Linked DNA regions of Homo sapiens. Changing the gene in region 2 together with the main gene of any one other region gives a genetic interaction. Each region holds a gene or a part of one and is shown on either strand. Other genes may lie near its edges. The genes, in order: MYH9, PTP4A3 and MCOLN1.

The links.
Region 1: changes in PTP4A3 (region 2) and MYH9 together harm fitness less than expected from each alone (positive genetic interaction), as found in Homo sapiens cells (one study listed by BioGRID).
Region 3: of PTP4A3 (region 2) and MCOLN1, changing one suppresses a phenotype caused by changing the other (phenotypic suppression), as found in Homo sapiens cells (one study listed by BioGRID).

What each region holds. Positions count from the first base shown.
Region 1 is NC_000022.11:36,381,306-36,385,050, forward strand, and holds part of MYH9 (myosin-9), read right to left. Parts: intron 1-3,745. UniProt on the Homo sapiens protein: Cellular myosin that appears to play a role in cytokinesis, cell shape, and specialized functions such as secretion and capping. Required for cortical actin clearance prior to oocyte exocytosis. Promotes cell motility in conjunction with S100A4.
Region 2 is NC_000008.11:141,422,896-141,426,640, forward strand, and holds part of PTP4A3 (protein tyrosine phosphatase type IVA 3), read left to right. Parts: intron 1-2,152; coding exon 2,153-2,245; intron 2,246-3,745. UniProt on the Homo sapiens protein: Protein tyrosine phosphatase which stimulates progression from G1 into S phase during mitosis. Enhances cell proliferation, cell motility and invasive activity, and promotes cancer metastasis.
Region 3 is NC_000019.10:7,520,800-7,524,544, reverse strand, and holds the start of MCOLN1 (mucolipin-1), read right to left. Parts: upstream 1,922-3,745; 5' UTR 1,795-1,921; coding exon 1,764-1,794; intron 1,704-1,763; exon of another isoform or gene 1,383-1,703; intron 196-1,382; exon of another isoform or gene 1-195. Other genes in the region: ZNF358 (zinc finger protein 358), read right to left, coding at 3,596-3,745. UniProt on the Homo sapiens protein: Nonselective cation channel probably playing a role in the regulation of membrane trafficking events and of metal homeostasis. Acts as a Ca(2+)-permeable cation channel with inwardly rectifying activity.

The DNA.
Region 1 (3,745 bases), on a different chromosome or scaffold from region 2:
GGAGATGGGGACCAACCTGGGCAACATGGTGAAACCCCGTCTCTACTAAAAATACAAAAAAATTAGCTGGGCATAGTGGCGCACACCTGTAATCCCAGCTACTCAGGAGGCTGAGGCAGGAGAATCACATGAACCCAGGAGGTGGAGGTTGCAGTGAGCCGAGATCGATCATGCCACTCCAGCCTGGGCAACAGAGCGAGACTCCATCTCAAAAAAAAAAAAAAAAGTATTGAGTGAAATGTACTGCTCACTCCCTGCTCCTGTTGCCTAGACCCTAGGCAACCACCATTACCAGGGTCTCAGTATCTTTCCAGAAATACTGCATGCACAGAGCAGAGTTTACATACCATGTTTTACACAAAACGAAGCACCATTTACACTACTTTGCGTCTGGTGTTTTTCACTTACAACATAGCTTGGAGAGCACACCCTATCAGTACATATGGATTGACCTCATTTTTCAAAGGGATGCAAGGACTTCCACTGTACAGCTGTACCATGATTTAGTTGACCTTTTTAATAGCACAACTTGTTTCCTGTCATCTTCTATGTCAATGCCGCAATGAAGATTCTCAGACATTTCCTTCAGCACATCTGAGTTTATCTGTGAGATGAATTCCTAGAATATAGTCGGAAGGAGTATGCTTTGACAGATACTGCCAAACAACTTTCTTTTGTTGTTGTTGTTGTTGTTTAATGTAACCCAGAGACAGACTCTCCCTGTGTTGCCCAGGCTGATCTCGAACTCCTGGGCTCAAGCAATCCTCCCCCATTGGCCTCCCAAAGTGCTGGGATTACAGATGTGAGCCACCATGCCCAGCCCCAAACGACCTTCTAAAAAGAGGGTTGTACAATATACACTCCCATCAATAAGGTACCAGAGTGCTGGCCAGGTGCGGTGGCTCACGCCTGTAATCCCAGCACTCTGGGAGGCCAAGGCGGGCGGATCACCTGAGGTCAGCAGTTCGAGACCAGCCTGGCCAACATGGTGAAACCCCATTTCTATTAAAAATGCAAAAATTAGCTGGGCGTGGTGGCAGGCGCCTGTAATCCCAGCTACTTGGGAAGCTGAGGCAGGAGAATCGCTTGAACCCAGGAGGCGGAGGTTGCAGTGAGCCGAGATCACACCACTGCACTCCAGCCTGGGCAACAGAGCGAGACTCAGTCTCAAAAAACAAAAAAAAGAGTGCCTAGGAAATTAAAATTACTTGATTTTGCTGGGTGTGGTGGCTCATGCCTATAATCCCAGCACTTTGGGAGGCCAAGGCGGGTGGATCGCCTGAGGTCGGAAGTTCGAGACCAGCCTGGCCAACGTGGTGAAACCCCATCTCTACTAAAAATGCAAAAACTAGCCGGGTGTGGTGGTGCACCCCTGTAATCCTGGCTACTCGGTAGGCTGAGGTAGGAATATTGCTTGAACCCAGGAGGCAGAGGCTGCAGTGAGCCAAGATCATGCCACTGTACTCCAGCCTGGGCAACAGAGTGAGACCCCATCTCAAATAAAGAAATAAATAAATAAATAAAATTACTTAATTTTTCAGTTTTTCAGGCACTCCCATACATAACTTGTGGGCACATAAACTGGTATGATATCTTTGTAGGGAGATACGGCACCTCCTCGGAAATCAAACCTGGCCAGGTGCAGTATTTCACACCTGTAACCCCAGCACTCTGAGAGGCTGAGGCAGGAGGGTTGCTTGAGCCCAGGGGTTTGAGACTAGCCTAGGCAATACAGCAAGATCCCATCCCTACAAAAAACACAAAAATTAGCCAGGTGTAGCAGTGTGCACTTGTAATCCTGGCTACTCAGGAGGCTGAGGCAGAGAATTGCTTGAGCCCAGGAATTTGAGGCTGCAGTGAGCTATGATCATGCTACTGCACTATAGCCTGGGCAACAGAGCAAGACCCTGCTTCAAAACGAAATCAAAAAACAAAAAGGAAATCAAACCTCCCCTCACCCAGAGCCAGAGTTGGAAGTAAGGTCTCCAGTCACCCAAGTCCAGTGCTCTTCCTGTATCACCCTTTGGCTATCTCCCAGACCACAGGAAACCATGTGTTTGAACTGAAACCACAGTCTGCACACCTTCTGTCCCAGCCGGGGCCCTGTGAAGAGGTTACTCAGCAGAAGTTCATCACCAAGTGCATCCAAAAGCATCAGCAGATGGGCCTCATAGCCACTTGTGAATAGGCAGTCCACAACCACAGTCCACAACCACAATACACGCATACCTTGTTGTGCACAGAGGCAGAAAGAACACCGAGCTAGAAGCCAGGAAAACAATCTGTCCCCCAGCCTCATCCCCACCCCCTCAACCTGATAACCTAGGGAGTTAAGACTGATCATTTATATTAAAAAAAAAGGGGGGGGGGTGCCAGGTGCGGTGGCTCACGCCTGTAATCCTAACACTTTGGGAGGCTGAGGCGGGTAGATCACCTGAGGTCAGGAGCTCGAGACCAGCCTGGCCAACATAGTGAAACCCTGTCTCTACTAAAAATACAAAAAAATTAGCCACGCATGGTGGCGGGCACCTGTAATCCCAGCTATTCGGGAGGTTGAGGCATGAGAACCGCTTGAACCCAGGAGGCGGAGGTTGCAGTGAGACAAGATAGTGCCACTGCACTCCAGCCTGGGTGACAGAGTGAGACCCTGTCTCGAAAAAAAAAAAAAAAGTGGGCGAGGGGGTGCTGGGTGTGGTGGCTCACGCCTGTAATCCTAGCACTCTGGGAGGTCGAGGCCGGTGGATCGCTTGAGGTCAGAAGTTCCAGACCAGCGTGGTCAACATGGCAAAATCCCATCTCTACTAAAAATACAAAAATTAGCCAAGTATGGTGGCAGGCACCTGTAATCCCAGCTACTCGGGAGACTGAGGCAGAAGAATCGCTTAAACCTTGGGGGCAGAGGTTGCAGTGAGCTGAGATTGTGCCACTGCACTCTAGCCTGGGCGAGAGTGAGACTCATCTCAAAAAACAAACAAACAAACAAAAACCATATATGAGCCGGGCACGGTGGCTCACACCTGTAATCTCAGCACTGTGGGAGGCCGAGATGGGCAGATCACCTGAGGTCAGGAGTTCGAGATCAGCCTGGCCAACATGGTGAAACCTCATCTCAACTACAGATATAAAAACTAGTGGGGTGTGGTGGTGGGCACCTGTAATCCCAGCTACTCGGGAGGCTGAGGCAGGAGAATTGCTTGAACCCAGGAGGAAGAGGTTGCAGCAAGCTGAGGTCACGCCATTGCACTCTAGCCTGGGCGACAGAGCAAGACTCTGTCTCAAAAAAAAAAAAAAAAAAAAAAAAAAAAAATATATATATATATATATATATATATATATATATATATATACAGCCACTACATATTAGGCCATGTACATACCTTATTTCTTTCAGTTCATGCATCTAACCCCACAGGGTAGGATCTTGATTCCCATATTATACATAAGCACATCCAAGCTGTGAGGCTATGTGACTTGCCTAAGGTCACAAAGCTATTAAGTAGCATGGTCAGGATTTGAACTCGGCCTGTTTCCAAAGCTCACGTTCTTTCCACTACCCCACTCTTCCCAGCTCTAAGAGTGGGATTCAGTAAGCCACAGCAGCAGCACTGCCAGGGCTCCATTCTTTTGTCAGCAGAGGACTCCAGCCCAGGGTCTCAGCACACCAAGGGTTAAGGCTGAGAGGCAGTGACTCTCTGGGGCTGCACAAAGGGAAATGCACTTCCTGCCCCAGCAGGCAGAGATGCTG
Region 2 (3,745 bases):
GGACGAGATGCGTTTACAGAAGCTTTCTTGGGAGTGGAGTCTGGAGCGACCTGCATGGCCTCCTGGAGGAGCCTGGCCTCTGCAGAACGCCCTGCTGTTTGCAGGCCTGGGGCCGTTTGCAGCGTCTGCAGTTGTGTGCGGGGCCGTTGACAGAGCCTCTGACTGTGCCAGGCTGTGTGAGAGGCTGCAGCTGTGTGCAGGGTCATTTATGGCTGAGTCCTTTCCCCTGTGACATGAGATAAGCCATCATGGTCTTGTCATAATGAAACAGATTTGGGCGTGAGAGGGCATTAAGAACTGTAGAGCAGCAGGAGGCATTGGGCACCTTGCCATCAGGGAGCCTGGACCCTGGACACTGAGCCAGGTGCCCTACAGAAGATGGCTGTCCCTCTCGCAGCTGAGACCCCTGAGATAACAGCAGCATCTACAGAAAGATTGGCGAGAACAGCACGGTGAGTGGCCAGGGTGAGGCCTCAGAATATGACTGGGATCAGGGTTAAGTCTGTAACCAAGGTCAGGTCTCAGTGTGTGACCAAGGTTGGGGCTCACTGTTTGACCAGGATCAGGGCTCTGTGTGACCAGGGTCAGGGTTCGGTGTGTGTCTGGGATCAGGGCTCAATGTGTGACCAGGGTTGAGGCTCAGTGTGTGTCCAGGATCAGGGCTCAGTATGTGACCAAGGTTGGGACTCAGTGTGTGTCCAGGATTAGCGCTCAGTATGTGACCAAGGTTGGGGCTCAGTGTTTGACCAGGATCAGGGCTTAGTGTGTGACCAGGGCCAGGGTTTGGTGTGTGTCTGGGATCAGGGCTCAGTATGTGACCAGGGTCGAAGCTCAGTGTGTGTCCAAGATCAGGGTTCAGTGTGTGACCAGGATTGAGGCTTAGTAGGTGAGCAGGGTTAGGGAGGGCTCATCCTGTGACCAGGGTTAACGCTTAGTGTCTGACCAGGATCAGGGCTCAGTGTGTGACCCAGATCAAGGCTCGGTATGTGACCAGGATTAGGGCTCAATGTGTGACCAGGGTTGGGGGCTCAGCACGTGATCAGGATTAGGGCTCAGAGGTGTGTGACTATCAAGGCTCAGGACGTGACCAGGATCAGGGCTCAGTGTGTGACCAGGATCAGGAAGGGCTCAGCCTGTGACCAGGGCCAGGGCTGAGCCGTGGGCTGGGTGGCCATTCCCTCTGCTGAGGGTGCAGAGGGCCTCTGAGGTACCCCATGGCCACAGAGCCCAGCACCCTGCCTGCTCCCTGCATTCTCAGATAGTTGGGTGCTGGCCTCTCTGTGTTCCAGGTCCCTGTCCCGTGACCAGCAAGACCCATCAGCTGATTCCTCACCCCTCCCAAAATAGCTACGAGAGCAGGTGGGGTGGGAACAGCCCCCGCACGTGACCCCTGTGGAGTGGATCCTCCGCAGTGGGGGTATAACTATCGGCCTGGCTGTGAACTACCACCACCTTTTCCCTGGTCGTGTGGGGCTTCCCTGCTGGCGTACAGGGCCCAGCTTCCTCCTGGCTGCCATCTGAGCGGTGCCCACCCTCCCTGCTCTGAGGCGCCCCAGCTGATGCCCGCCCCTCTTAGACCCTAAAAACTGGACCCATCCCTGCGGCTCAGCTGGGGTCGCTGTTCGGATGCAGGGGCTCACACGTGGGCTGGGGAGTCCAGTTCCTGCTGTGGGGACCCAGTAGCTTTTCTGGAAGAAATGTCCTTGCTGGTAGATCTGGGGTCCTGAGCACCCCAGAGGAGGGAGTGGTGTGCTGGGCAGCTGGGGTCCCAGCTGCCAGTTACCGTGAATGTAGGTGGGGACACCTTTGCCTCTGCTGGGTGGCCCAAGGGACCTAGGACAGGCTCTTCGACAGCCAGACACTACCTCGACCAGTAGTGGAGCCTGAAGTCCACTCTTGGTGGACCTCACTGCATCAGGGTCTGCCTGGCTGGAGGGTGACATGCCCTTCCCTGGGGGCTTCAGGGGCCATGACCCTGCCCCAGGGGACTGAGGGGACAGGGCTCCACCCCGAGAGGTCTGAGGGGACATGTCCAAGTCCTGGGTGACTGTGGGGGACACAGCTGTGCCCTGGGAGCCCTGGTGAGTGGGTCCTGCCCCCTGAGCCCTGCAGCCCCAGCCCAGCCCTGCCTCCTCCGTCCTCCCACCCCCAGGACCTGAAGAAGTACGGGGCTACCACTGTGGTGCGTGTGTGTGAAGTGACCTATGACAAAACGCCGCTGGAGAAGGATGGCATCACCGTTGTGGTGAGGCGCGCGCCACGGGGACCCTAGTCACTGCTGCCACCGGGGGAGGGTGGGGCGGGGGGCTCCGGGCCTGCGCAGAGGGTTTGGTGCCCCTCCTGTGGCAGCCCTGGGCATGTCTGTGCCTGGGCCACGTGTGTGTCTGGGTACATCAAGGGAAGGCCAGGGTGTTGGGCCGTGTGACCTCAAGAAAGTCACCCTTGCGCACCCGTCTTTCTGTCTCTAGGGTGGGCCAGCACGGTTCGCCAGGCAGGGGTGGCACATGCTTGGTGCATCGGCCAAGGTGGCGGGTGGGCTCCTCTGCCTGTCTCAGGCCCTCCTCTGGGCCTGTCTTGGGTGCATCTCAGTCTTGCTGCCTGGGCGGCTGGGGCCCTGTTGCCAGGCAGCAGGCTCCTGGGGAGGGCCCTTGGGCAGTTTCCTCGGCTTCTTTGGCCCTGGGGACCCAGGTCTGGGCGGGGGGTGGGGCGGTTCTGCTGCGATATCCTTGGGGGGGTGGGCCACAGCAGCTGCAGGCCCAGAGCCAGCCCCAGGGGGGTCCACCCCCGGCCCGGTGGACGACTGCCCCCCTGGTGCAGGCCTGCCCAGCTGCGCCTGGGCCTCAGTCTCCTCAGTGCGGAGCACCCCTCAGTCACTGCTTTTCATCCCAGGACTCTGCTTTTGGCTGGGGTTGCAGTTTTGTGACCTCAGCTTGGCGGTTTGGAATGGTGGCAGCGCTGGCGGTTTGGGGTCAGACAGGCCTTGGGCTGCGTCCCGCCTCTGCCCTCCCCAGCCTTGCGACCCTGCAGGTCACTCCGAGCCTTGGGTTCCTCACCTCAAAGCGAGGCTGCTTGGAAGAATGGGAGGCAAAGGCATGTCCCCGCTTCTCGCACGGGGTGCGCCCACACCCTCCCTCCCCTTCCACAGCAGCGGGAGGGATTGGGGTCAGACGTAAGTAGCCGTGACACCGGTTGTCTCTAGGAGTTGCCCTGCCTGGAGGCTGGGGAGGGGTGAGATGCCCCCGAGGGCTGTGTGTCTGCCTCAGTGGGCCCAGCGGGCTCTCCCTGGTACCAGACAGCCCCATGCCTGGCACAGTCCCTGCATGAACCCGCCTTCCCAAGACTGAAACGTGTCCACTCCTACTGCAGCGCCCTGGCCCGGGCCCTCCCCTAGGAAGACTCACGTTGCCCACCGATCTAGGGCGCTGGGGGACGGGACAGTGGGAAGCACAGGTCATCTTCCAAGACCAAATTAACCCCCAGGAGCAATGGGCCGGGGCCCGGTGGAACCGCCTGTTTCGAGTCCTGCCCTCAGAAATGTGGGCCCTGTCTCGCCCCACAGCCCTGTCTTCAGTCCTTCCTGGCACCTGGGCTGTGTGTGGCATGTGCCAGCCATCTTTGCATGCCAGCACAGGGGATGAGACCCTTTGCACCAGCCGACCCAAAACCTCTCAGGCTGCCACCGGCACACAGGCGTGAGGGATTGTGACCCCAGAACCAGAGCTCGGGCTGACAGGTGTGGGGATTA
Region 3 (3,745 bases), on a different chromosome or scaffold from region 2:
TGAACTGCTCCCACTGGCTTTTCACTGGGCGTTCAAGCCTGCTGGGCTTATCCCAACTCCAGCTTCCAGACATGAGCATAGAACTCAGCCTGTATTCTAGGTTTGTCTGGACAAATACCCAAAAGATGACCTCTGGGTTCATTATAACCTGGCCCATCAGCTGACACTCTCAGAAGCCAAGGACCTGGAGAAGAGGTAATTGACAACATAAGTAATAATAATGGAACACATTCGCTAAAGACTCATTTTATCTCCCTGAAAAGCACCAGCTCCTAGAAATCATGCAGCCCTAGCATCAAATCCCAGACCTGCCACTTTACAGTAGGTTGACTCCAGGTACCTCCCTGAGCCTCCATCTCCTCATCTGAAGAGTGGAAATTTTAAAAAGGCGACCCCTTGGCTGGGCTCAGTGGCTCATGCCTGTTATCCCAACGGCTTTGGGAGGCCAAGGTGGGAGGATCCAGCCTAGGTAATACAGCGAGACCTCCCTGTCTACAAAAAAAAAACATTTTTTTTAAATAGTCAGGTGTGACGGCTCATGCCCGTAGTTAGTAGCTGGGACCCCATCTACCCGGGAGGCTGAGTTGGGAGGATCACTTGAGCCCAGGAGTTCGATGTTACAATGAGCTAGGATTATGCCACTGCACTACAGCCTGGGCAACAAAAAAAAGTTTATTAAAAAAAAAAAAAGTCCACCCTCTCCCTGAGCCTTGAGGTTGAGATCCTGAAGCTGCTCTGAGAATTCAGTGAGACACAGCAGATAAAGACCTCTTCAGCAAACACAAGCTGTTCTAATCACTGTTTATTTTTTTCCAGCCTAATGGTTAGATCTAAGCTTTCAGCAACTGCTGGAGTCAAAACCAGTCACAGTAGCCCAAAACTGTCCCTGTCACACCCCCATGGGGATGTGCTTTCTAGGGCCTGGCCCCGTGCTGCTTTCTAGGGCCTGGCCTCCTGCCTAGCAAAGCAGTCAGGATAAATGTGTGCACTGTCAGAACCTCCCTTGCAGAGAGGGACAAGTTCCCGGCCCCTCCCTTTGCAATGAGATGCTGCTGTGGCTGTTTACGACAAAGCCAGAGGGCAGGGCCCGCTTACAGAGCTGAGATTACAGCTAACCCACCCCAGACCCTACTAGCTGGGACACCGGGACATCTATCAGGTAGGGGTCCCCAGCTAGCTCCAGAAGGGGAAGCTAACACAAGGGGTCTTCCTCCAGCCTCCCCGAGGAGGGGTGGCATCAGAATTGGCTAGAAGCCCGAATTTAAGAAGGCTGCGCTTCCAGCGGTTTGGAAAGCTAAAACTGAGTTAATCGCCTGGGGGCAATCCCTCCAGCTCTCCAGGCTTGAGCTTAGGGAAGCTGAGCATTTGTCCCCTGGAATCAGGAGGGGAAGCCTGGGAGTCTCACGTGCGGGTTGGAGAAGCTGGTGCCCGCTGTCTGAGTTCCAGACGAAGTTGAGCAATCGGAACCTAGGCTCCCAGTGGGAATCCCAGGAACCTCGCCGCCCCAGAGGGAGAAGCTGGCGGCCCGGCGCGATCCCTGCCTGAGTTTGGGAACCCAGCAGAGCCTGGGTTCAGGAGGAAGAATTGGAGAGGCTGGTGCCCACCCGCCGCCCAAGTTCTAGGAGCCGTCTGCCCTTTTCTCCACCGTGAAAAGTCAGCGCTGGAGCTTAGAAAAAAAGAGACTAGGAGCTCCGCCGCCCCAGGTGGGAGACACAGCCCGCCCGCCTGAGTTCGGGGCCCCACGGTGCCGCCCGCGCCCTCACCTGAGCCGCGCGGACCCGCCGGGGCTGTCATGCTGGGGCGGGAGCGCGGGACGCAGGCGGGTACGGCGGGGCAGCCTGGGTCCGATCGCCCGCCGCTGTCACTGCGACCTCGCTCCCTCGCGGCGCGGCTTCAAACCCTCCGGCATCAGCTGATCTGTGCCTCGGTCACGTGACCCGGTAGCCCAGAGCCCCTCACGTGACCGCCTCTGGTCCCGCCCCCTGCGCCACGACAACCCCTGCCGGAACAGCGCGCATGCGTGCCTCTGCCGGCGCCCTCTGGGTCGAAGGCAGTCGCTAGGTCCTAGCGCCGACGCGCTCTGGGTGGCGGGGGATGGGCTGACTCTGAGTTTGGCAACGACGAGCTCTGCCCTGGCTCCCGGCCATGCCCCGAATCCGGTGCCAGGCTTGTGACTTCCATGTCCAGAGCTTGACCCCTTATCCTCCTTGGTGCCTGGTGATGACCCTGCCTACTATCTCAACGCTGTCTTCCTCTTTCTCCCAGAAACTCCTTTTACCCTTCTCCTGCGCATCTTCAGCAAACACGATTTCCTAATTATGTATCAAATAGAACCACTTATCCCCACCCCATGGCCCCCAGCCCAGAGTCTTCCAACATTCCTGGCCTGGATCTTTGCAGCAACCTCCTCCCCGATCTCAGCCTCCCTCCACTCCACTCTCTACCCAGCAGCCACAAGCATCTTCAAAGAATAATTCCTATCCTTCCTGCGAGAACCTGCCCTCGGCTTCCCATTGCTCTGTAATGACAGGCAGAGTCCCCACTCTCGTCTATCAGGGCCCTCTGATCTGGCTCCTACCTCCATCCAAAGCTCATCTTTCTATAGCCCCAGAGCCTTTGCATACTTTTGCCCTGGAGCGTAATGGTTAAGAATTTGGACCCTGGAGGGCAATTGGGATTTAAATCTAGGCACTGACAATGCCACTTCTACATCTTCCAGAGTCCCTTCAACTCCAAGCTGAGCGCAGTGGGCGGTGGCATGCACCGGCAATCCCAGCTACTCGGGAGGCTAAGGTGGGAGGATCGCTTGAGCCCAGGAGGTCGAGGCTGCAGTGAGCTATGATCACACCACTGCACTCCAGCCTGGGCAACAGAGCAAGACTGTCTAAAAAAAAAAAAAAAAATGTGCCTCAATTTTCTCATTTGCAAAATGGGGATATTCAAAGTCATCTACCTACTGGGGCTGTTGAGAGGATTAAATGAGAGAATGCAAAAACTATCGCATAAGGCTGGGCAAACAGTACTGATTATTAAATTAGTGATTATTGGGATTACAAAATCCTTCATTGAGAAAGCTGCCTGCCATTTATATCAGAAGTCTTGTTATGCTTCTCCTAGAATGTACTATACCCCGTAATTATTTTTTAAGTATTCTGAATTTAGTATCTATGAGCTCCATGCAGGTCGAGGCCATATTTATCTTGTTCCCTGCTGAGACCCCAGCAATCCAGAGATGTTTGTTGATTGCATAAATGAGCAACTTTTTTTGTCCACTTGTATACCTACTGTATGGGCTTTGAAGAGCAAGGGGTAAGTGAGAGGAACAGAGAGTGGTGACTAGTGGGATGGACCAGGATGAGACACTGTGGGTTAAGCTGGAAAGTCTAGCTGGTGGGCCCAAGAAGGAAGCCAGGACACTGGAGCTCCAGATTGTGGCTGGCCCTGGCCACAATGTCCCATCTCCGGAGCAAGGGGCTGTGCTCAGAAAGAAAGCACAAAAGGCAAGCCACGACACAGAGCCCGGAGGCAGTGGGAGGATTTTACTGACTGCACAACACACAACTTCCCCAGGCCCCCGAGGATGCCGGCGTCTCCTTCAGCCATCAGGCCCCAGCAGTGCCCCTTGCTCCTGTACCCACTCTGGACTCTCGCCGGTAGGGAGGGCTGGGCTGACAGTGCCACGAGTGGGAGAACAGGGGTCAGGGCAGGACACAGGGTTGGGATCAGGGCTGGGCACAGGATCAGG